Linked DNA regions of Homo sapiens. The protein of the gene in region 2 interacts with the protein of the main gene of each other region in a pairwise test. Each region holds a gene or a part of one and is shown on either strand. Other genes may lie near its edges.

Region 1 (7,000 bases), on a different chromosome or scaffold from region 2:
TGCCTGCCACCACGCCCGGCTAATTTTTTGTATTTTTAGTAGAGACGGGGTTTTACCGTGTTAGCCAGGATGGTCTCGATCTCCTGCCCTTGTGATCTGCCCGCCTCAGCCTCCCAAAGTGCTGGGATTACAGGCGTGAGCCACTGCGCCTGGCCAAAACTATGATTTTTTTAAATTCCTTAAATCCCTTCCTAATTTATACATCTGCTCTAATAATAAAGCTCCAAGGCCTTGAACTGGGAAGTAATGGAATATAAGAGTAGAGACTAACATTTGGCCCTTGAGCCCCAAGGAAAGAAAGCCTGCCTACATCAAGAAAGAAGCAACCATGCAGAAAGAGGGACAGACCCAAGGTCCTGACAGACAAGAGGAACCTTGAATTCTGACTTCCTATTTCCTAGAGCCCAAATGGACTGTCTTTTTGGGTTCAATAATAAATTACTTTTGTAGCCCCTAGATAAATATAAATAGATAAAAGTCCTAAGAACGATATACAGGATTTGCCTATCATCAAGCAGGACCATGTTCTTGACCATGTTTAAACAATGGCAAAAGAAAATCCCCATAAACGACTATCCTATATAGAGAAGCCAGATGTCAAGGTGAAAAGAAATCCAATCAGAGCAGTCAACAATGGGTGGCATTATACCTCCCTCACTTTTTGAATGTACTCACATTGACCTCCATAGGGAGTTCCACCATAAAAACAAGCCACTGACAGCTTTTTTGTGATGTCACTGAAGTCTTTGCTTACTTGATTTGCCAACTCTCTTGTAGGTGCAAGAACCAGTACCTGATAAAGAAAAATAATTGAATTCAAATTACTGTGTAGTATTTGTTTCTTAATCTAGTCCTTAAAGAACAGCATTCCAGGAAAAGAACGACTTGAACAAGGTCTAACGCTGATGATGACGATAACATTATCTAATATTTTTGTCTAATAGATCTGAGACTCTACTAAATTCTTTATATATATTATTCTGATTCAATTCTTGCAACCTTTTGAGCTAGGTATTAGAGGATAAATAACTTGACTAAACCCCAAAGGCTAAGAAGGAGCAGAGCCTTCAAGCAATTGGGATCCAAAACCTATAGTCTTAACCTCTACAGTAGAGAAAATTTGAAGCAGAACAAAATCAGAGAAGTAAGGTAGAGCCAACAATGTAAGGGGCTTTGAATCCTAGAGCAATATGAATTTGATCTATATATATATAAAACATGAAACTGCTGGCCAGGCGCAATGGCTCATGCCTATAATCCTAGCACTTTGGGAGGCCAAGGTGGGTGGTCAGGAGTTCAAGACCAGCCTGGCCAACATGGTGAAAGTCTATCTCTACTAAAAATACAAATGAGCCAGGCGTGGTGGCTCACACTTGTAATCCCAACTACTTGGGATGTTGAGGCGGGAGGATCACTTAAACCTGCGAGGCAGAGGTTAAGATTGCACCACCGCACTCCAACCTGGGCGACAAAGCGAGACTTTGTCTCAAAAAAAAAAAAAAAAAAAAGTCCAGGTGCAGTGGCTCAAGCCTATAATTCCAGCACTTTGGGAGGCTGAGGTGGGTGGATCACTTGACGTCAGGAGTTCCAGACCAGCCTGGCCAACATGGTGAAACCCCATCTCTACTAAAAATACAAAATTAGCCAGGCATGGTGGTACACGCCTGTAATCCCAGCTACTTGGGAGGCTAAGGCAGGAGAATTGCTTGAACTGCTACAGGTCCTCAAAAATAGGGTAATGGTATGAAACTAATATGATTCAAGAACACCTAATACATTCATCTAAAATGTGCTAGGGATATAGCAGTAAACAAATTAACAAAGGGGGAGCATGGACACTGGAAGGCCAGTGAGCAAGTGAGGTTAGGCCAGAAAGACAACTGCAAGAACCCACAGCCAAAGTGACTACATGGGCATTCGCAGTCATTTCAATGAGGTTAATGTTTGTTAAATGTCAAGTTCTCTAGAAATGAACCCAATGGACTCACCCTAATATGGGGGCTTGGCGTTTTCACCTCTGACTTGCCCTTCTTTCCATTCATGCTTTTCTTTTTTTTTTTTTTTTTTTCTTGAGACGGAGTCTTGCTCTATCGCCCAGGCTGGAGTGCAGTGGTGCATCTCGGCTCACTGCAAGCTCCGCCTCCTGGATTCACGCCATTCTCCTGCCTCAGCCTCCCAAGTAGTTGGGACTACACGCGCCCGCCACCACGCCCGGCTAATTTTTTGTATTTTTATTAGAGATGGGCTTTCATGTTGTTAGCCAGGATGGTCTCGATCTCCTGACCTCGTGATCCGCCCACCTCGGGCTCCCAAAGTGCTGGGATTACAGGTGTGAGCCACCGCCCATTCATGCTTTTCTACCAAAAATGCTTTCTCCATCTAGGCAAAAATGGTCAGACACTTGACGAAAGCTATGAGCCCCAGGGACATCTAATGGTTTGAAGGAAATATGATAGCATTAATTATATAGATGATCAAAACTGTGGGAAAGATTAAAATATTGAAATATACAGAGAATGATCTGTATATATTAATTATTAAATATAAAAGAATTGTCCTGGATTACTTTCACATAAAGATCCACAGTAAATAGAATGGGTGACTATAAGAACTCAATAAAAAATAGTAGGGTATGTACACAATGCCCAAGTGGTGGTTTTTCCTATGCTGACTGAGAGCCCTTGTATTTAAGACAGTTACCTGAGGGGCACGGCCTCTCTTCCTGTCTTGCAGTTCCCCATGAAGTTTCTCAATCAAAGGGATGGCAAAGGAGAATGTCTTCCCAGTTCCTGTCCGTGCCTGTGCAATTAAGTCCTTCCCGCTGTAAACATGATGGAATGTCTTTGCTTGTATAGGAAATAGGAAGGTCACTCCTCGGCCTATGAACAAATTAACTGTGTTATCTCACACTGCAATTCTTAAAACATTAGCCATACTGACATACTGAAGTATACTACTCATGCTTCTGGTCCTGCAGAATTAAGGAATTCTACCTTCTGGTCAACATCTACAAAGTTAGGCTCAAATACGTATATTTTTTAAGAGACAAGGTCTTGCTTTGTCGCCCATGCTGGAGTACAGTGGTGTGATCATAACTCACTTGCAGCCTTGAACTCCTGGGCTCAAGTGATCCTCCTGCCTCAGCCTGATGGACAGCTGGGATTACAGGTGCAAGCCATCATACCTGGCTCAGAAATATTCTGATAGTAAAGAATCTGCTTGACTGAAAAATATCAACAAACTTTAAAGCATCCAATTATAGTAAATATTTGAAGTCTCATCCATAAGCCTGAAAATCTGGTGCTTTGCAATCCAACTGTGCTGCTCCTGATTTAGGAAGCACCTACTTGAGTAACTGTGACTCCAGCTACTTCAGAAGCAGATTATTAAATGAATTCTGGGTTTATGCCTATAAATTAGGCTCATTAATCTAGAGATGCCTCAGAAGTGAAAGAGATAAAACATTAATATGGCATCACCTAATTGCTTAATTTCACCAGCACCATTAGTCAATACACTTCTGAATACACACTGTATTAAATACAATTTTTTTTGAGACAGGGTTTCATTCTGTCACCCAGGCTGGCGTGCAGTGGTGTGACCACAGTTCACTGAAGCCTTGAACTCCTGGGCTCAAGCGATCTTCCTTCCTCAGCCTCTGGAGTAGTTAGGACTATAGATGTGTGTTACCACGTGCCCAGCTAATTTTTAAACTTTTTGTCGGGACAGGTTCTCACTATGTTACCCAGGAAGATCTCAAACTCCTGGCCTCAATCAATTACAGGTGTGAGCCACCACAGAGGGCCTGAAAAAGCTTTAACCACTTGTTTAAGAAGCATGAAGAACCATCACTACTATAGTACTAAATTGAATACACAGGCCTACTTCATTATATGACTGCATATATCAGCCTACAATAAGAATACATCCTGGTTCATCTTAACAAAAATAGTGGAGTGCTTCTGTTAAAATAATACGTTCTAACATCATACGATATTTCCAAGAACATTACCTTTGAGAAGTTTAATAGTTTCTTCAGATATGGGAAAATTAGAGAAAGCGCCTTCTTTTTGTTCCACAGGTATTTCCTATCAAGTAAAGGGCCATAGAAAGAAATCAATAATCACCTACACAAATTAATAGAGAACCTTCTGAGAAAGAGACAAAACAAGCTATCCTAAAGCAATTCTTCTAAACACATCACTTTAAAAATCAACCAAAAAGATACAAAAACCTTGATAGGTAACTCGAGATCTGAAAAGGAAACATTGTCATAAATCTATAAAACTTTAACAAAAGAAAAATCTGAGGCAAATATATACTGGGTAACTAGATCTCAACTAAGATCTCAACTAAGATTATGTGTGACTAGATCTCAACTAAGATCTACTCCATAACCATAATCAACAATATACTGATGGAAATGTCATTAGCCCTCTTCCAAAGCAGCATCTCTTGTATACACACATCCATAGAAAATGAACAAACATTTTATGAGGTAGCAGTCACTGTGGCATTATTTGATAGTAAGATATCTGAATGCTCAATACAAGTAGTAAGTAGATTTCAAGACATTTATATGAAGGATTATGTAACCATTAAGCGTACTTAACGAGGAAAATGCTTAGCTAGAAACAAAAAAGATACAAGATTGCACAGTACAATCCTAATCTGATTAAAAATAATAGATGCATATACTAAAAGTACTACAAGGAAACACCAAAAATTAACAAGATGACTTCTGTACTTGAAAAGTACAGGTATTAATATTTACTAAATGAATGGTGAAATTCCAGGAAGCATTTCTTTCTTTTTGCAAAATGTCTGCATTTTCTATTTTCTCTGGATCACATATTTTTTATAATCAGGAAAAAAGTTACAAATGTTGACCATGATCTATAGCAAAAAGAAAATCTATTAGAATTAGTATTTTTCAGCTGGGTGTGGTGGCTTGTGCCTGTAATCCCAGCTACTCGGGAGGCTTAGGCGGGATTATCGCTTGAAGCCACAAGTTCTAGACCAGCCTGGGCCACACAGCGAGATCCCATGTCTAAAACAAATTTTTTTAATACAATTCGTATTTCTTTCATAACTGAGTTTCTGAAAGATAACAGAATTAGGTTCTGGACAGACATTTTATCATCCTGTTCAACTCCAGGATGATTACTTAATGGCCTAACCAAAAGGACTTATGCAATCAACCTTTTCAGTAATTCCAATAATTTATTTGGTTAAACCCCTCAGAGGGAAACTAGGGCCCATTTACAAAACTGTATCTCTTCTGTTGACTGACTTGCAAATAAGCAGACCAAGACTCTCCCTAAGCTTAAGCAGTATCTGCTTATTTGTAAAGGAGGCATTGTGACACTATGCTAATTTTTTTTTTTTTTTTTTTAAAGACAGAGTCCGCTGGGAACAGTAGCTCATGCCTGTAATCCCAACACTTTGGGAGGCCCAGGCGGGCAGATCACCTGGGGTTGGGAGTTCGAGACCAGCCTGGCCAACATGGTGAAAGCCCGCCTCTACTAAAAATACAAAAAATTAGCCAGGCGTGATAGCACACACCCGTAATCCCACCTACTGAGGAGGCTAAGGTAGGAGAATCACTTGAACCCAGGAGGCAGAGGTTGCAGTGAGCTGAGATCGTGCCACTGTACTCCAGCCTAGGTGACAGAGCGAGACTCTGTCTCAAAAAAATAAAAAAATAAAAAAGACAGAGTACTCTTAGCTGAGCCACCATGCCCTGTCGTATGCTAATTTTTAAGATGAAGTCCCAGTCAGCCTAAGGTATCCCCCAACCCACAAGGTGCTGACACATCACATTTTCTCCTACTATTAAAGAGTACATATAGCAGTTACCTACTTATTTATCTGAAACAACAATGAAAGATATCTTCTACCCAATGAAGTGCAAATGTACCTGCTCTATCTCACTGTTACTTTCTTCACTGGCAGCTTCACTGGGGTTACAGTCCGGTTCAGGATGAGGAAATCCATTCTTCAGTTTGGGGCTTTTCTCTCTAGTTTCTCCATTCATTTCCTTTTCTTTCTTCATCTTCTTGGGCTTAGGAGCATCTATTTCTTCCTCAGAAGGCTCCTCATTTTTTGTCACTTTTTTGGTTTTAGAAGAAACCACTTTCTTTTCAATGGGCTCCTTTTTCTTTCTCAAACTTTTGGTTTTAGGAGAAATGTCATTTTGAGATGGCTCCTCTTTCTTTTTTGCCTTTTTGGATTTAGGAGAATTCATGTCAACTTCAGAAGGCTCTGCTTTCTTTTTAACTTGTTTAGCTTTGGGGAAAACAGTTTCTTCCTCTTCTGCTATCTCTTCAGTCTTATCAGATTTTGGCTTCTCTTTTTTCTCTTTCTAAAAAAAATTCATAAGGAAAATACAAACACTGAATAAGGCATTTATACATTTGCAACATTCATCAATTCTGGATTATTTCAAGATCATTTTCAACTTTAAAAAATACAATTTTGGGGCATTTCGACATTTGTACTTTCATGCTGTGATAAGGTAAAAATCAAAATAGTAAGCTTTTTCTAAAATCGCTTCTTAGCTATATATATAGACGGGTATATATCAATAGTTTCACTATCTTGGAAAATGAAGAGTGCCCCTTAGTAACTATTCAACTCATGTGGGTCAAACAGTTGTAAAACAGATTTTCTTTTTTGAGACAGAGTCTCGCTCTGTCGCCCAGGCTGTAGTGAAGTGGCACAATCTCAGCTCACTGAAACCTCCACTCCTGAGTTCAAGTTATTCTCATGCCTCAGCCTCCCGAGTACCTGGGACTACAGGCGCCCACCACCACACCCAGCGAATTTTTGTATTTTTAGTAGAGGTGGGGTTTTCCCATGTTGCCCAGGCTGGTCTCAAACTCCTGAGCTCAGGCAACCCACCCACTCCGGCCTCCCAAACTGCTAGGATTACATGAGCCACCGTGCTTGGCCTATAAACCAGATTTTCATAAGGGATTTGGATAAGCTCATGGGATAC
Region 2 (8,100 bases):
CTGTAGCATAAAAAGGCAGCATGGTTTTGTGACAAGTACCCAAGACCTGTTATGAGAAGACTTTAATTTGAATATTGACTCTGACCCTTACTAGCTCTTCCACTTTAGATAAGTCATTTAATCTCTCTCTGAGAGTCCGTTTCTTCTTATTCTATAAAATGGGGGGAATAATATCTAGCCTATCTGTTGTAAGAACCAGTGAGATTTTTTTTAAAAAGTAAGGTGTTTCATGAGGTTTTACCGCTTTACAAATATTAAGGTTTAAAAACACTACTTAATAATGACAGAAATAAACTACATATGCAGTAATTTCTCAAAAGTGAGCATTTTTGCTGTCTGGCTGTTACTGCTTACAGATTTAAGCTATAAACCTAATTTAAGCTTAATCCTATTTCTGAAAACTGTAAATACGTTGTAGAAACTTGACAAGTTGATAAAATGTATGCTGACACTTACATAAAAACCCTTTCTGTCCCATCAAGAGCAAAATCCCACATTTAAGCTGCTTCTTAACTTACGTTTATATCTGTATGGTATATGAGGACACATAAAGCTGGCAAAATCTGAGGAAAGAAAATAAACAATACTTAACATTAGTTAATTAATATGTCTGTAAAAATGAACAACTTTGACATAAAAAGCGGTAAATATGGTTTGTAGGGCGAGAAAGACAATGTTAAATTTGTCTGAATATCTTTTAGGAAAATGAAAACCTGATAAATTCAATCTAAAAAAACCAAAAACATATCTCAAATGTTAAACTGAAATATGTTCAATTAACAAGTTAAAATATCCAAATAAATCTGGCAGAAGTTAATGTACCTTAAAATAAAAACATTTGTTTTTAATAACCTTCTTTATGGCATAAAATGTCAAGTGGAAAAAATGGAGATGCAAATATACAGTTACAGCTATTTAAGAAAAGCTACACTTAAAACTGCCGTAATTGTCTCACTTACCTGCTTAACGTAAAAATACGATTTTACTTAATAAGCTACTTAAGTCAAATTAAAGTTTTCAACTTCACCTTTAGTCAAGAAAATTCGAACCAGTACAAAGTACAAAGCTTTGCTTGTTAAATTCAGGCCCCAGAGATCTCTTTTTAAAATATGGGAGAAAGGGAGCAGGGGGTTGTAGGAAATCACACAAAATACCTTTGCATAGCAACAAAAAGTAGCAGGTACTAGAGAAAGATGTCCATTATAAAGATACACAGTTGGCCAAGTGTGGTGGCTCATGCTTGTAATCCCACCACTTTGGGAGGGTGAGGTGGGTGGACTGCTTGATGCCAGGAGTTCAAGACCAGCTGGCCAACATGGTGAAAACCCATTTCTACTAAAAATACAAAAATTAGCCTGGCATGGTGGCACATGCCTGAGACATGAGAATCGCTTGAACCCCGGATGTGGAGGCTGCAGTGGGCAAAGATTGTGCCACTGCACTCCAGCCTGGGAAACAGAGCGAGACTGTCTCAAAAAAAAAAAAAAAAAAAAGAGATAACACAGTCAACAGTGAATAAAGGTTATGTAGGATTTTTTTTTAAAATGCAAAGCACAAGGATCTATTTACATATCAAATGTAAATAAAAAAGTTTTTACTTTGTTTTAATTAGTAGATTTAACAAAAAATATGTCACACTTTTAAGAACTCCAATTTTGTCAGTAATAAATTGGAGTTAGGCCGTGGGGGCAGTGGCTCACACCTGTAATCCCAGCACTTTGGGATACTGAGGTGAGCAGATCACTTCAGGTCAGGAGTTTGAGACCAGCCTGGCCTACACAGTGAAACCCCATCTCTACTAAAAATACAAAAACTAGCCGGGTGTGGTGGCGCTGGCCTGTAATCCCAGCTACTCAGGAGGCTGAGGCACGAGACTCGCTTGAACCCAGGAGGCAGAGGCTGCAGTGAGCTGAGATCATGCCACTGCACTCCAGCCTGGGCAATAGAACAAGACTGTCTCAAAAGAAGAAGAAGAAGAAAAAAAATCAATTGGACTTAAAGCAAACTCATTCAAGAACATTTGCATGTAAGTATACTAGTTTTGCCTGTAGCAACCCCCTTTTATAGCTTTAAACCAACAATGCAATACAGTAATAAAACTTTGAGATTGTTTTCCTTTTGTATTTTTCTCTCTGAATTTTTATATTTTCTTTTTATGCAGATAATCAAAAAAATAGGCATTAGGATGAACTGACATTCTTTCAGGTACAGTAAGACACTCAACTTTTATTTCATAGGAGTAATTAAATATGGTACGTTACTTTTAAAATCTTACACCTGTGGCTGGGCGTGGTGGCTCAGGCCTGTCATCCCAGCACTTTGGGAGGCCGAGGCGGGCAGATCACGAGGTCAGGAGGTCGAGACCATCCTGGCTAACATGGTGAAACCCCGTCTGTACTAAAAATACAAAAAAATTAGCCAGGCGTGGTGGCGGGTGCCTGTAGTCCCAGCTACTCAGGAGGCTGAGGCAGGAGAATGGCGTGAACCCAGGAAGTGGAGCTTGCCGTGAGCCAAGATCGCGCCACTGCACTCCAGCCTGGGCGACAGAGCAAGACTCCGTTATCAAACAAACAAACAAACAAAAAACTCACACCTGCAATGAAATCAGTATATGTATTATTTTGTCCCCTGTATATGAATTCCTGAAGTACAAACATAGGGAAAATATACCATCTGGCCTTTACAATTCTTCATTTACCTCCTGAACTGTCTCCATAGGCGGCGGGGGATCCTTATTCCTGCAGAGATTGACAATGACCCATGTGACGTTCCGAAGGAAGGTGATGGGGATGGAGGGACTGATGAAGGACAGAAGAGGTTTGACAACTCCCAGTGATATGACATAATCTCTACATTGAGGACCATCACCTACAGAAATGAAAATTATATTTAAAAAAAACTTACATTCAGGATGAGAAAGTCTGAAATGTATGCAATGGCTCATGTGGGAACACTGACGTTCTATGTTTCCTCACCATTAGTCAAAGGCATCAAGTGTTGTTTCTCCAGATTTTGATCTGGGGAACGTAAATTTAACCTACCAATGCTAACAGCAAACTGTATATCCTTTTCAAAGAGCATCATCTTAAGTCAGTACTTATGAGGCAAGAAGAGAGTCAACACACATTAAATTCAGAGGAAACATAGTATGTAATGGCTATGCCAATGTAGGAAAAAAGTTAATTTAGATTCTTAAGAGGATTCCTTTCAAACCACTTACCTATAATGTTTCCCAAAGCCCATACTGCTTGTTCACAAACATTCTGATGTGGTGAACGAAGAAGTCTCAGAAAAAGAGGTACTGCATCTGTAATAAAGAAAAACTAATATTTATACTAGCAACATGTTGAAGAGTTTACAGATTTCAGATCAAAGAAATTGATCAAATACACAGCCTGGCATATTGTAGCTGGAAGAACAAATGTGGCAAATATCTTTACCCTAAAAAGAATCAATTTCAGTATTTTCCCCTAGTAATAGTCAAGTACCGTAACCAACTGGCAGTATCTAAAGGTTGCTATCATACCATTAACTAAAAGAAAGCAACAGCATGAAATCCTTCCTATAATCCATTAAAAAAAAAAAAAAAAAAAAAAGAGTTCCTACCCCAAACATGTAACCTTAAAATGTAATGCTTTAGTCTACAAAATCTCAATTCCTGATACGGGGATTAACCAAAGAACTGATTAATCTCATATCAGGTCTATCTTATACTTTAAAATAATTTCTCATAATCCTTACTCTTTACAGAATGTATACATTATACCCATTTCCAGCATAAGCTAGATCACTTTTTAAAAATTTCAATCAACTGTGCACTACCTCATTTTTTTTTTTTTGCTGTATCTGTGTATTACTTGTATTATTTACTTAAAATTTAAATTAATTCAGTTTTAACAACTTTACGGAGATATAATTACAATAAATTTACATTTAAGTGTGTAATTCAATGACATTTCATATTTATACAGAGTTGTGAGGACATCGCCACAATCTAATTTTATAACATTTCCAGGACCTCAAAAGAAATCTTGGCTGGGTATGATGGCTCATGCCTGTAATCCTAACACTCTGGGAGGCCGAGGCAGATGGATCACCAGGTCAGGAGTTCAAGACCAGCCTGGCCAAGATGGTGAAACCCTGTCTCTACTAAAAATATAAAAATTAGCCGGGCGTGGTGGTGGGCGCCTGTAATCCCAGCTACTTTGGAGGCTGAGGCAGAGAACTGCTTGAACCAGGGAGACGGAGGTTGCAGTGAGCCAAGATCGTGCCACTGCACTCCAGCCTGGGTGACAGAGCAAGACTCTGTCTCAAAAAAAAAAAATATCATACTCAGCCGGGCACAGTGGCTCACACCTATAATCTCAGCACTTTGGGAAGCGAGGCGGGCAGATCACGAGGTCAAGAGGTTGAGACCATCCTGGCCAACATAGTGAAACCCCGTCTCTACTAAAAATACAAAAATTAGCTGGACATGGTGGTGTGTGCCTGTAGTCCCAGCTACTTGGGAGGGTGAGGCAGGAGAATTGCTTGAACCCAGGAGACGGAAGTTGCAGTGAGCTGAGATCACGCCACTGCACTCCAGCCTGGCGACAGAGCGAGACTCCGTCTTAAAAAAAAAAAAAAAAGAAAAGAAAAAAGAAAAAAGAAATCTCATACTTAAGGCAGTCATTCCACATTTGTTCCTCTGCCACACATTCCCCAAGCGGCAGGCAACCATTAAATATCTGCTTTCTGTCTTTACAGATTTGCCTATTCTGGACATTTCATACAAATGAAATCATACTGTGTTTTTTGGGGGGTCTGACTTCACTTAACATTCTTCAGGTTCATCCATGTGGTAACAGGTATTGGTACTTCATTCTTTTTTACTGCTGAATTGTATTCCATTGTATACACCACATTCACTTTATCCACTCCTCGGTTAATGAACATTTGGGTTAGTTATGAATAACATTGCTGTGAATATTTATGTACAAGTGTTTGTATGAATATGTTTTCATATCTCTTGGTTTCACCTAGGAGTAGAACTGCTGGGTCACATGATAACTTTTTTTTTTTTTTTGAGGTGGAGTCTCGCTTTGTCACCCAGGCTGGAGTGCAGCGGCACGATCTCGGCTCACTGCAAGCTCCGCCTCCCGGGTTCACGCCATTCTCCCGCCTCAGCCTCCCAAGCAGCTGGGACTACAGGCGCCCGCCACCATGCCCGGCTAATTTTGTTTTTGTATTTTTAGTAGAGACAGGGTTTCACCATGTTAGCAAGGATGGTCTTGATCTCCTGACCTCGTGATCCACCCGCCTCGGCCTCCCAAAGTGCTGGGATTACAGGCTTGAGCCACTGCACCCAGCCTTTGTTTTTGAGATAGGGTCTCACTCTGTCGCCGGGGCTGGAATGCAGTGTGCAGTCTCGGCTCACTGCAACCTCTGCCTCCCTGGCTCAAGCGATCCTCTCGCCTCTGTCTCCTGAGTAGGTGCGACTATAGGCATGCGCCACCATGCAATGCTAATTTTTAAATATTTTGTAGAGACACGATTTTGTCATGTCACCTAGGCTGTTCTTGAACTCCTGAACTCAAGTGATCTGCTTGCCTTAGCCTCCCAAAGTGCTGGGATTAGAGGCATGAGCCACCTGTGGGTCTGGTGAGAATAGTATTCTCAATACATGATTCAATGTAACTTACTGCCATATCACATGCTACTTAAAATCACCTTGATTACCACACCTAAAATTAGCTAAGTGTCCCATACTATAATAACGTACGTGGTGATATCTAGTACTTTTCTAAAGAGCTTGTGTCAGTGTCATTTAACAATAATTATTAGCCCATCTTGAGGAAAGTAAAATTTAAAATATGTCATAAGCTAAAAGGCAGAAGCCATTCAGCATCTTGAAGATATCAGAAACGGAATTTAAAATCCTGTTATCACAGCATGATGTCTACTCCAAAAGATAAAACTCTACTCTTCTTTTAATAACCACAATTAAAAATTTTTCATGATAAATTAATGACGGCTATGAAAAAGATATCGGTCATCAAAAGTAACTTATAAAAGTCATCATTTAAAAAATGTTACAAGATAAAATTTCTTTATTACAAAACTCTACTTCCTTGCCATCATTAAAACACAAAAAGTTCAGACAGTAAGGAATTTACTTACTAGACTGCACAACAGCTTGAGTCTGTGCAGAAGTTCCTGATGCTATGTTAGTTAATGCCCAAGCAGCTTCAAACTGTAATGAAGGACTGTAAAAAAACAATAACACATCTTTTTAGACACATAACTACCACTTAAATTAATGAATCTTAAGACTGATAAGATATGGCTATTCTTTGCCTTGTCCTTGAATTTCACCTTGTTATAATCCAATTGCCTGCTAGCCAACCCTACTTTTTTTTTTTTTTTGAGATGGAGTCTCCCTCCATCACCCAGGCGGGAGTGCAGTGGCGCCATCTTGACTCATTGCAATCTCTGCCTCTGGGGTTCAAGTGATTCTCGTCTCCACCTCCCAAGTAGCTGGGATTACAGGTGCACATCACCACACCTGGCTCATTTTTGTACTTTTAGTAGAGATAGGGTTTCACTATGTTGGCCAGGCTGGTCCTGAACCCCTGACTTCAGGTGATCTGCCCACCTCGGCTTCCCAAAGTGCTGGGATTATAGGCATGAGCCACTGCACCCAGCAGCCATCTCTACTTAAAAAATCTCTTTGGCTCCCAAAGCCAGTCACTATGAACCTGCTTCTTTATGTCCACTGGTATTACAACATTTAGCCAGTCATTATTTCCCTTGACTTCGACTTCCTCTCCACAGACACATCTAATCAATATATCATGTCGATTTTACCTCTTAAACATTTCTTACATTTATATAATCACCCCTAATATCAAGTGCTAGTTGAGGCCCTCATCATCTCACTTTAACCACTATCACACGCTCTAGGCTGGTCTTAAAGCTAGAACCCCATCTGTCTCCATTACACCATCTGCTTTACATACTAGGGATATTACAAGGCTGTATAATTTTGTTGAAAAAACAAGATCATTATATTTTCGAATAGTAATGGAAGACCTCACAAAGAAAGTGACAACTGAACTAGCTTTTCAAAGATGGATTTAAAAAGAAAGGCAGTGACAGTGGGAAATAAAACAGGTATCATGCATGGAAGGATCATGATGTGTAGGAACGACAAGGATTAGATCAAGAGAGCTGAAACTAACTAAGAAGCAAGTAACAGGGTGTTTGTGCATGTGTGTGTGTGTTTCAGGATGGGAGTGAGGAGTGTATTCTACAGATATGCTAAGGATGGGGCATTGAAAAAGGGAGGAAAGAAAATAATGTTCAAATCAATGGTATGCAGAATGGCTAAAAAAGGTTAAAGGCTGATATAGGAGAGACCTATTAAAAGACATGTTGGGGCTTACACCTGTAGTCCCAGCACTTTGGGAGGCTGAGGCAGGCAGATCGCTTGAGCCAAAAAGTTCGAAACCAGCCTGGGCAACACGGTGAGACCCCATTTTTACAAAAAATAAAAAAATCAGCCAGATGTGGTGGTACACACCTGTAGTCCCAGCTACTTGGGATGCTGGGCGGGGGTGGGATGGGGGGATTGCTTGAGCCTAGGAGTTTGAGGATTCAATGAGCTGTGATTGTGTCACTGCACTCCAGCCTGGGTGACAGAGTGAAACCCTGTCACAAAAAAGACATAAAGGAAAGACCTGTTAAAAGGAAATGATAGATATTAAGTTAGGATAGCTGAAAGAGTACAAATTCCCTTAAGTGGAATACCAAGGATTGGGGGGATTTAGTCAGCAAAAATTAAGATTAGACAAAGGTTAGGGAGTTTGAAGAAAAGCCTATAAACAGGGAAGAGAGCAAGCAAGGTTGTTAGTATCAAAAGGTTAAAGAAGTCCGGGCAAGGTGGTTCACACCTGTAACCCCAGCACTTTGGGAGGCCAAGGCAGATGGATCACCTGAGGTCGGGAGTTTGAAACCAGCCTGGCCAACATGGCAAAACCCCCTCTCTACTAAAAATACAAAAATTAGCTGGACATGATGGTGCGTGCCTATAATCCCAGCTGCTCGGGAGGCTGAGGCAGG
Region 3 (7,159 bases), on a different chromosome or scaffold from region 2:
CTAGATAGTAAAAAGAGGCTCCTTCCTCTTCCCCCTAGTCCCTCAGTCCTAGACTTGGGAGACACAAGCAAGTAACAGTCCCTCTAAGCTCCCTTCTCCTTACCTCACCCTAGACCACCCTTTTCAAGAGGAAAACTCTGAATAAGAACCCAGTTCCCTTGGGCTGACTTCCTTGCCGGTTCCCTAGTGTAAGGAACAGGGTTAAGGAAATTTTCAATGCCCTTGTCAAAATTACAGTGTATCAATGTAAGAGCCTACTTGCCTTAATAAAAACTTACTAGGAAAACAGAGACGTAGAACACTGTAGGAAAAAAATAATCCCTTAGCAACCCCACCTTATTCTATCTTTCTGCCACTACCATAGGCCAGGCCTTGGTTACCTACAAAGGTCAGAGGACAATAGTTCAGGGTGAAGGATCAAAGATGTTCCAGGCCTCAGTGTACCCTGGGAAAGCAGCAGGGTACAACCAAGAGGACTTACCACCAGGTACGGTGGCTCACGCCTGTAATCCCAGCACTTTGGGAGGCCAAAGTGGGCGGATCACAAGCTCAGGAGTTCGAGACCAGCCTGACTAACATGGTGAAACCCCGTCTCTACTAAAAATACAAAAATTAGCTGAGTGTGGTGGCGCGCACCTGTAATCCCAGCTACTCAGGAGGCTGAGGCAGGAGAATCACTTGAACCCAGGAGGCGGAGGTTGTAGTGAGCCAAGATCGCACCACTGCACTCCAGCCTGGGTGACAGAGTGAGTGAGACTCCGTCTCAAAAATAAATAAATAAATAAATAAATAAATAAATAAATAAATAAATAAAGAGGCCTTACCTTCCTGCCCTAAATTTATCCTGCTTTATTTTTTTTTATATAGCGGTTATCACTACTTGACTTCTCCCTCCCCCTCCACAATTTCTTTCTCCCCTTAATAGAATGGAAGCTCCATGAGAGCAGCAACTTTGTTTCGTTCATGCTCATATTCCCAGAGCCAACATTAGTCCCTGGCAATGTTCAATAAACATTGACTGAAGAAAACAACAGGCCCTGGGCTGAGTGAACAGCAATCCGGCGATCTGGATCCTATCTTCTGCCCTTTCACTGTGACATCTGGGGAATCACAGTCTCTTTAGCCATAAATTTCCAAACCTGTAAAATGAGGTGTTTGTATAAACAATGACTGCTGAGGGCCTCTGCAGCTCTACAATTCTAATGACTGTTGTTCACTCATCTCCATATCAGAGGATAGCTCCAGGCATTCGAATGCTCTGCTGCCTGTACCAAAGCAGAAAGGCTATATCCTCCAGTCTCAGCACAGCAAACTGATGCCCTTTCTCTTCATGCCCCACCCACTCACACAAACCGCCCCAGTCCTGAGGAAGCTGGAGAGTCTGCCCTAGGCCCGCCCTCTCTGAGAGACTGTCTGGGAAGCAGTGTTGCCATAGCAATCAGCTCCTCCTCAAAAGGCTTCAGCCTGCCCTTTTTTACCCCACCCTACCCCAGGGCTTTGTCTGTCCTCAGCAGACCCACCCCCCTCCCCAGCCAGTCTCTCAGCTCCTGGGTGGTTGTGTGAGGAGGCTGGCTTGGGGCCCCTTTTAGCAACACTGTCACACTCATTTAGCCACTGTGTGGAACTCAAGCCTTTCCCACCCTCTCCCAGCCAGCCCAGGGGCAAAAAGAACTCTAGCACTCCATCAAATCCCCTCAGGGAAGCAGAGGAGCCCTCAAGAGAACTAGGTCCTAGCCTGTTCTGATAGTGCTTCCAAGCCTGGAGTGTGGGGAGCCACTCCCTCTTCCTCCCCTAGCTGTGGCTGGAACCTCACAACCCTTACTGGGTTCAGCTTACAGTCGTGGCCCACCTCTCAAAACAGACAGAAGACCCTCAATACTCCTCACCACTTCCCCCCTCCCACAGAAGCCCTAGCGTTCCCTACCCAGAAGGATAAGGGTGGGGAAAATCTGTTTGTGGCAAGTGGTTAAATGTGGCTACCAGTCACTTGGGGATCTATGCGAGAGACCTGGGTGGTAGTGGTGGGGGTGGGGTCTGAGCCCTGCCGCTGGTTACCAGGGTCTCTGGTCATTGATAACAAAGTACCGGGCAGGGCACAGCTCCTAGATGGGCAAGGGCCAGGCCAGGCCCTGGGGCAAGGAAGGAAGTGGGAAATGAGCACACCCAGAGCATAAGGGCAGGGCGGGGGAGGGGGGAGACAGAGACCAAGGCCGGCTCTGGGAGGAACAGGAACTAGGATGGGGGGTTGACAGGAACCCAGCGGGGGAAGGGTCCCCCGGGACCTCAGCTTAGGGAAGAAACCCCAGTCTCAGCTGGACAGATCCAAAATAGACTGAGGAGACATTCACACAAGCCCTAGTGACAAGCAGGGTCTGACTCCTCTCTGAGTGCCCAGGCCAGAAGGCGGAGTTAAAAGCTGAGCAGACAGGAGTGCAATAGATTGGCCTCTTCACCCCACTAACCCCAACACCCTTGCTCTTAGAACCCAGAACACAAGTGTCTTCCTGTAGTTACTACAATGCCCTAAACTGTTACTTTGTCAAAGTACTGGGGGTTCTGTTCTCCTGCCTCAAGTTGGGCCTACAACCCCTTCCCCTAGATAGTGCCCGCAGACCCTCCGACACCGCTACACTCCTTCTCCATTAAACAGCCCCCCTTCCTTCAAAGCACCTCCATGTCCCCTGCCCCTCATGTACCTCCTCCAACCCCCCACATCAGACAGAGACAGCCCCCTCACAATGTACCTCGCAACCCCCCCACAACAAAGCGCTCCCGCCCTTCCCCCATAGAGGCCTCTGGAGAATGCACCTTGTTGCCCACACATTGAGTCCCCAACTGCTCCCGCGACTTCGTATCTTCCCTCAACACACAGCAGTCTCCAGATCGTCTGCAAAGCGCACCCCCATCCGCGTCCCTTCTTCCACGCTCACCCTGCCCCACACCTGTAGTTCCGTGGGTCCCGTTGCACTTGGGGACGTGGTAGTGGTTGGGGCAGTTACTGAGCAGCCCTAGCTGTAGCCTCCGCCTGCAAACCTCGCCCCTTCAGTCTGAGCCCCGCCCCCGCAACGCCCGGGCCCACCCTCTCCCTTGTCCCACCTTCCACCTTCTGTGGACTTGTCCCTTTCCTCGTTTAATTTCTCGAGCTCCTCCCCTGTAGCCCGGGCCCCGCCCCCTTCTGACCTCGCACCTCCTTCGCGTTTTCTTTGCATTTCCCCAGGATCCTCAGCTTTTCCCAGGCCCCACCCCCGATCCCCGCCTCCTCTCGGTCTCTCCGCCTTTCACCAGGACCCGCCCCCTCGGATTCCAGCCTGGCAGAAGTCGCGCCAAGACCCTTCCACCACGATCCCCCTCCCATCTCAGAGCCCCTCCTCCTTCCGCCCCTTCTCCCTCACGCCTCACCCGGGCGGTCGCACTCCAACCAGGATCCGCTGGCTCTGATTGGCGGTGGCGGCCCCAAAGGAGGAAGGAGGAGACAAAGTGATGGTCGCAGGTCGCCTGAGGTCCCACCCCGGCCACGTGCGGCTTCTGTGATGACAAGTCTAGAGGGGCGGGGCCTCGGCCGGCAGGCTGCTAGCCTGAGCGGAGCGGATCAGGGCAGAGGTGGGGAGATGGAGCCAGGGCCAAAGCCACCAGCCTGAGGGCTCTGAGCCGGGTTGGGGCTATCTCGCTGCTTTCGCACCGGTGTGAGCTGCCGCCGGAACTCTAACCTCTTTGTAGGGATGTCTGGGTGGGCGCGTGCATTTGCACTAATAGGGGAGGTCCGTAGGGATTGCAAGGTAGTGCAAGGAATCTCAGGGGTCTGTGAAAATGAGGGAATCTGGGCGGTGGGGTTCAGGTCTGCGAGGTTGAGCAGTTTCTGAAGCCTACGCTGTGCAGGCGGGTGTGGGTTCTGGGATGGGATGGACAGTAGGAGTCAGATCAGTACCTACTGAGGCAGGTCAGCGAGATCTGTGAATTTTACGAGATGAGTGTTGATATGGAGTTAGGAGGGCCTGCAATTGCTGGAGAAAAGTGAGGCCTTTCCCTTGTACAGGTGTCTAATGAACTGCATGACAGTTACATATGTTCTGCAGTTTAAGCGGCGCCCTCTCCAACCTCTCCCCAGGAGATACAATAAGGGAGGGCGACGCTTCCCAGACACCGGTAGATGGCAGCACAGGACACTTGCAGAACTGAGACAGCCCAGCTCAGCGCCGATCTGTGGCCTCTCCGAGGAGCGGACCGTTTGGGTCTGGATTTGATCAAGTTCTACAAAAGTCACATTCTTTTTTATTTTTTTTTGAGACGGCGTCTCGCTCTTTCGCCCAAACTGGAGTGCAGTGGTGCGATCTCGGCTCACTGCAACCTCCGCCTACTGGGTTCAAGCAATTCTCCTGCCTCAGCCTTCAGAGTAGCTGGGATTACAAGCGCGCGCCACCAGGCCGGGCTAATTTTCGTATTTTTGGTAGAGACAGGTTTCACCATGTTGGCCAGGCTGGTCTCAAATTCCTGACCTCAAGCGATCCGCCCGCCTCGGCTGCCCAAAGTGTTGGGATTACTGGCGTGAGCCACAGCACCCGGCCAAATCTCAGATTCTTTAGGCTCTGTGACTTTGTCAGTAGTTAACTTAAACTGGTTTACTCAACGTCAGTGGTGTGGAAGCGCAAAAAAAAGAAAGAAAAAAGTATTTTCTCTGGCCATAAGGAACTTATTATTTAGACAGTGATACAAATGCCTACATAATCCCAGAAGGGTAAACTAAGAAAGGTTTTGGGTAGTGGGAAAACCACAGAGTTTGAAGTCATCTAAACTTCTTCAACTTCAACTTCAAACTTCAACTTATGGGTTCAACTTATGAGTTTGTCTCATACCTTTGAGTATTTACTAGCTGTATAGATTTAGGTAAATTATTTGACTTTAAAAAATTAATTTTAGAACAATTTTAGATTTACAGAAAACTTGTAAAAATAGTGCAGAGAGTTTTCATATATACCCTACACCTAGTTTCTCCTATTATTAACATCTTTCCTTATATGGTTCATTTATTACAATTAATAAGCCAATATTGATACATTAACAATAACTAAAACCCACACTTTATTCTGATTTTCTTTTTGTTTTTTTGAGACGGAGTTGTCGCTCTTTCACCCAGGCTGGAGTGCAGTGGCAAGATCTCGGCTCACTGTAACCTCCACCTTCTGGTTTCAAGAGATTCTCCTGCCTCAGCCTCCCGAGTAGCTGGGATTACAGGCATGTGCCACCACGCCTGGCTAATTTTGTATTTTTAGTAGAGATAGGGTTTCTCCATGTTGGTCAGGCTGGTCTCGAACTCCCGACCTCAGGTGATCCACCCGCCTCGGCCTCTCAAAGTGTTGGAATTACAGGTGTGAGCCACCGCGCCCGGCCTATTCTGATTTTCTTAGTTTTTGCCTTATGTCCTTTTTCTGTGCCAAAATCTAACCCAAGCTGGAACATTACATTTAGACATCATGTCTCCTTTGGCTCCTCTTGGCTGTGACAGTTTTTCAAACTTCCTTGTTTTTGATGACCTTAACAGTTTTTGTTTTGTTTTGAGACAGAGTCTTGCTCTTTCGCCCAGGCTGGAGTGCAGTGGCACGATCTTGGCTCACTGCAATCTCTGCCTCCTGGGTTCAAGCGATTCTCCCACCTCAGCCTCCTGAGTAGATGGGACTACAGGTGCATGCCACCACGCCGGGCTAATTTTTGTATTTGTAGTAGAGACAAGGTTTCACCATATTGCCCCGGATGGTCTTGATCTCCTGACGTTGTGACCCACCCGCCTCAGCCTCTCAAACTGTTGGGATTACAGGCATGAGCCACTGTGCCCGGCCGTTTTTTTTTTTTTTTTTTGGTTGTTGTTGTTTTATTTTGAGACAGAGTTTTGCTCTTGTTGCCCAGGCTGGAGTGCAATGGCGCAATCTTGGCTCACTGCAACCTCCGCCTCCTGGGTTCAAGCGATTCTCCTGCCTCAGCCTTCTGAGTACCTGGGATTACAGGCATGTGCCACCACGCCTGGCTAATTTTGTATTTTTTGTAGAGATGAGGGTTTCTCCATGTTGGTCATGGCTGATCTCGAACTCCCGACCTCAGGTGATCCACCCGCCTTGGCCTTCCAAAGTGCTGGGATTACAGGCGTGAGCCACCGCTCCTGGACTAGTTTTGTTTTTTAAGAGACAGGGTCTCATTCTGTCACCCAGGCTGAAGTACAGTGGTGCAATCATAGCCCTTGTAACTTTGAGCTCCTGGGCTCGAGGGATACTCCTGCCTCAGCCTCCAGAGTAGCTAGGACTACAAACACATGCTACCAAAAAAGAAAAAAAAATTTTAATTTTTTATTTTTTTTAATTTTTTATTATATTTTATTTTATTTGAGATGGAGTCTCGCTCTGTCACTGAGGCTGGAGTACAACGGTGTGATCTCAGCTCATTGCAACCTCTGCCTCCCAGGTTCAAGTGATTCTCCTGCCTCAGCCTCCTGAGTAGTGGGATTACAGGCATAAGCCATCACACCTGGCTAATTAATTTTTGTATATTTAGTAGAGACAGGGTTTTATCATATTGGCCAGACTGGTCTCAAACTCCTGTCCTCAAGTGATCCGCCTACCTTGGCCTCCCAAAGTGCTGGGATTATAGGCGTGAGCCACCAGCGCCTGGCCTTTAATCTTCTATTGTAGAGATAGGGCTTGCTAGGTTGCCCATACTGGTCTACAACTCCTGGCCTCAAGTTATCCTCCTGCCTCAGCTTCCCAAAGTGCTGGGATTACAAGTGTGAGCCAGAGCACCTGGCATCATATTGCAGTCTTTAAAAAAAAAAAAAAACAACAGTGGTAGCTAAGCAGTCTGAGTCTTTATTTTTCTACAAGATTTTTAGAACTTCTTTATGAAATACTTGAGGCATACAGGAAGCTCTAAAGAATATTATAACAAATACCCATATTCTGGCCAGGTGTGGTGCCTCACACCTGTAATCCCAACACTTTGGGAGGCTGAAGCAGGTGGATCACTTGTGGTCATGAGTTCGAGACCAGCCTGGCCAACATGGTGAAACCCCATCTCTACTAAAAAGACAAAAATTAGCTGGGTGTTGTGGCACATCCCTGTAGTCCCAGTTACTCGGGAGGCTGAGGTGCGAGAATTGGTTGAGCCTGGGAGGCAGAAA

The links. The genes of interacting proteins can lie anywhere in the genome.
Region 1: the proteins of KPNA3 (region 2) and DDX21 interact in binary tests that used the Homo sapiens proteins (3 or more experiments, as listed by UniProt).
Region 3: the proteins of KPNA3 (region 2) and ATOSB interact in binary tests that used the Homo sapiens proteins (3 or more experiments, as listed by UniProt).

The regions. Positions count from the first base shown.
Region 1 is NC_000010.11:68,959,170-68,966,169, reverse strand, and holds part of DDX21 (nucleolar RNA helicase 2), read right to left. Parts: intron 6,365-7,000; coding exon 5,921-6,364; intron 4,089-5,920; coding exon 4,013-4,088; intron 2,880-4,012; coding exon 2,701-2,879; intron 794-2,700; coding exon 676-793; intron 1-675.
Region 2 is NC_000013.11:49,719,257-49,727,356, forward strand, and holds part of KPNA3 (importin subunit alpha-4), read right to left. Parts: intron 6,246-8,100; coding exon 6,160-6,245; intron 3,308-6,159; coding exon 3,221-3,307; intron 2,869-3,220; coding exon 2,699-2,868; intron 564-2,698; coding exon 519-563; intron 1-518. UniProt on the Homo sapiens protein: Functions in nuclear protein import as an adapter protein for nuclear receptor KPNB1. Binds specifically and directly to substrates containing either a simple or bipartite NLS motif.
Region 3 is NC_000009.12:35,112,863-35,120,021, forward strand, and holds the start of ATOSB (atos homolog protein B), read right to left. Parts: upstream 3,001-7,159; 5' UTR 2,943-3,000; exon of another isoform or gene 2,809-2,942; intron 1-2,808. UniProt on the Homo sapiens protein: Transcription regulator that may syncronize transcriptional and translational programs.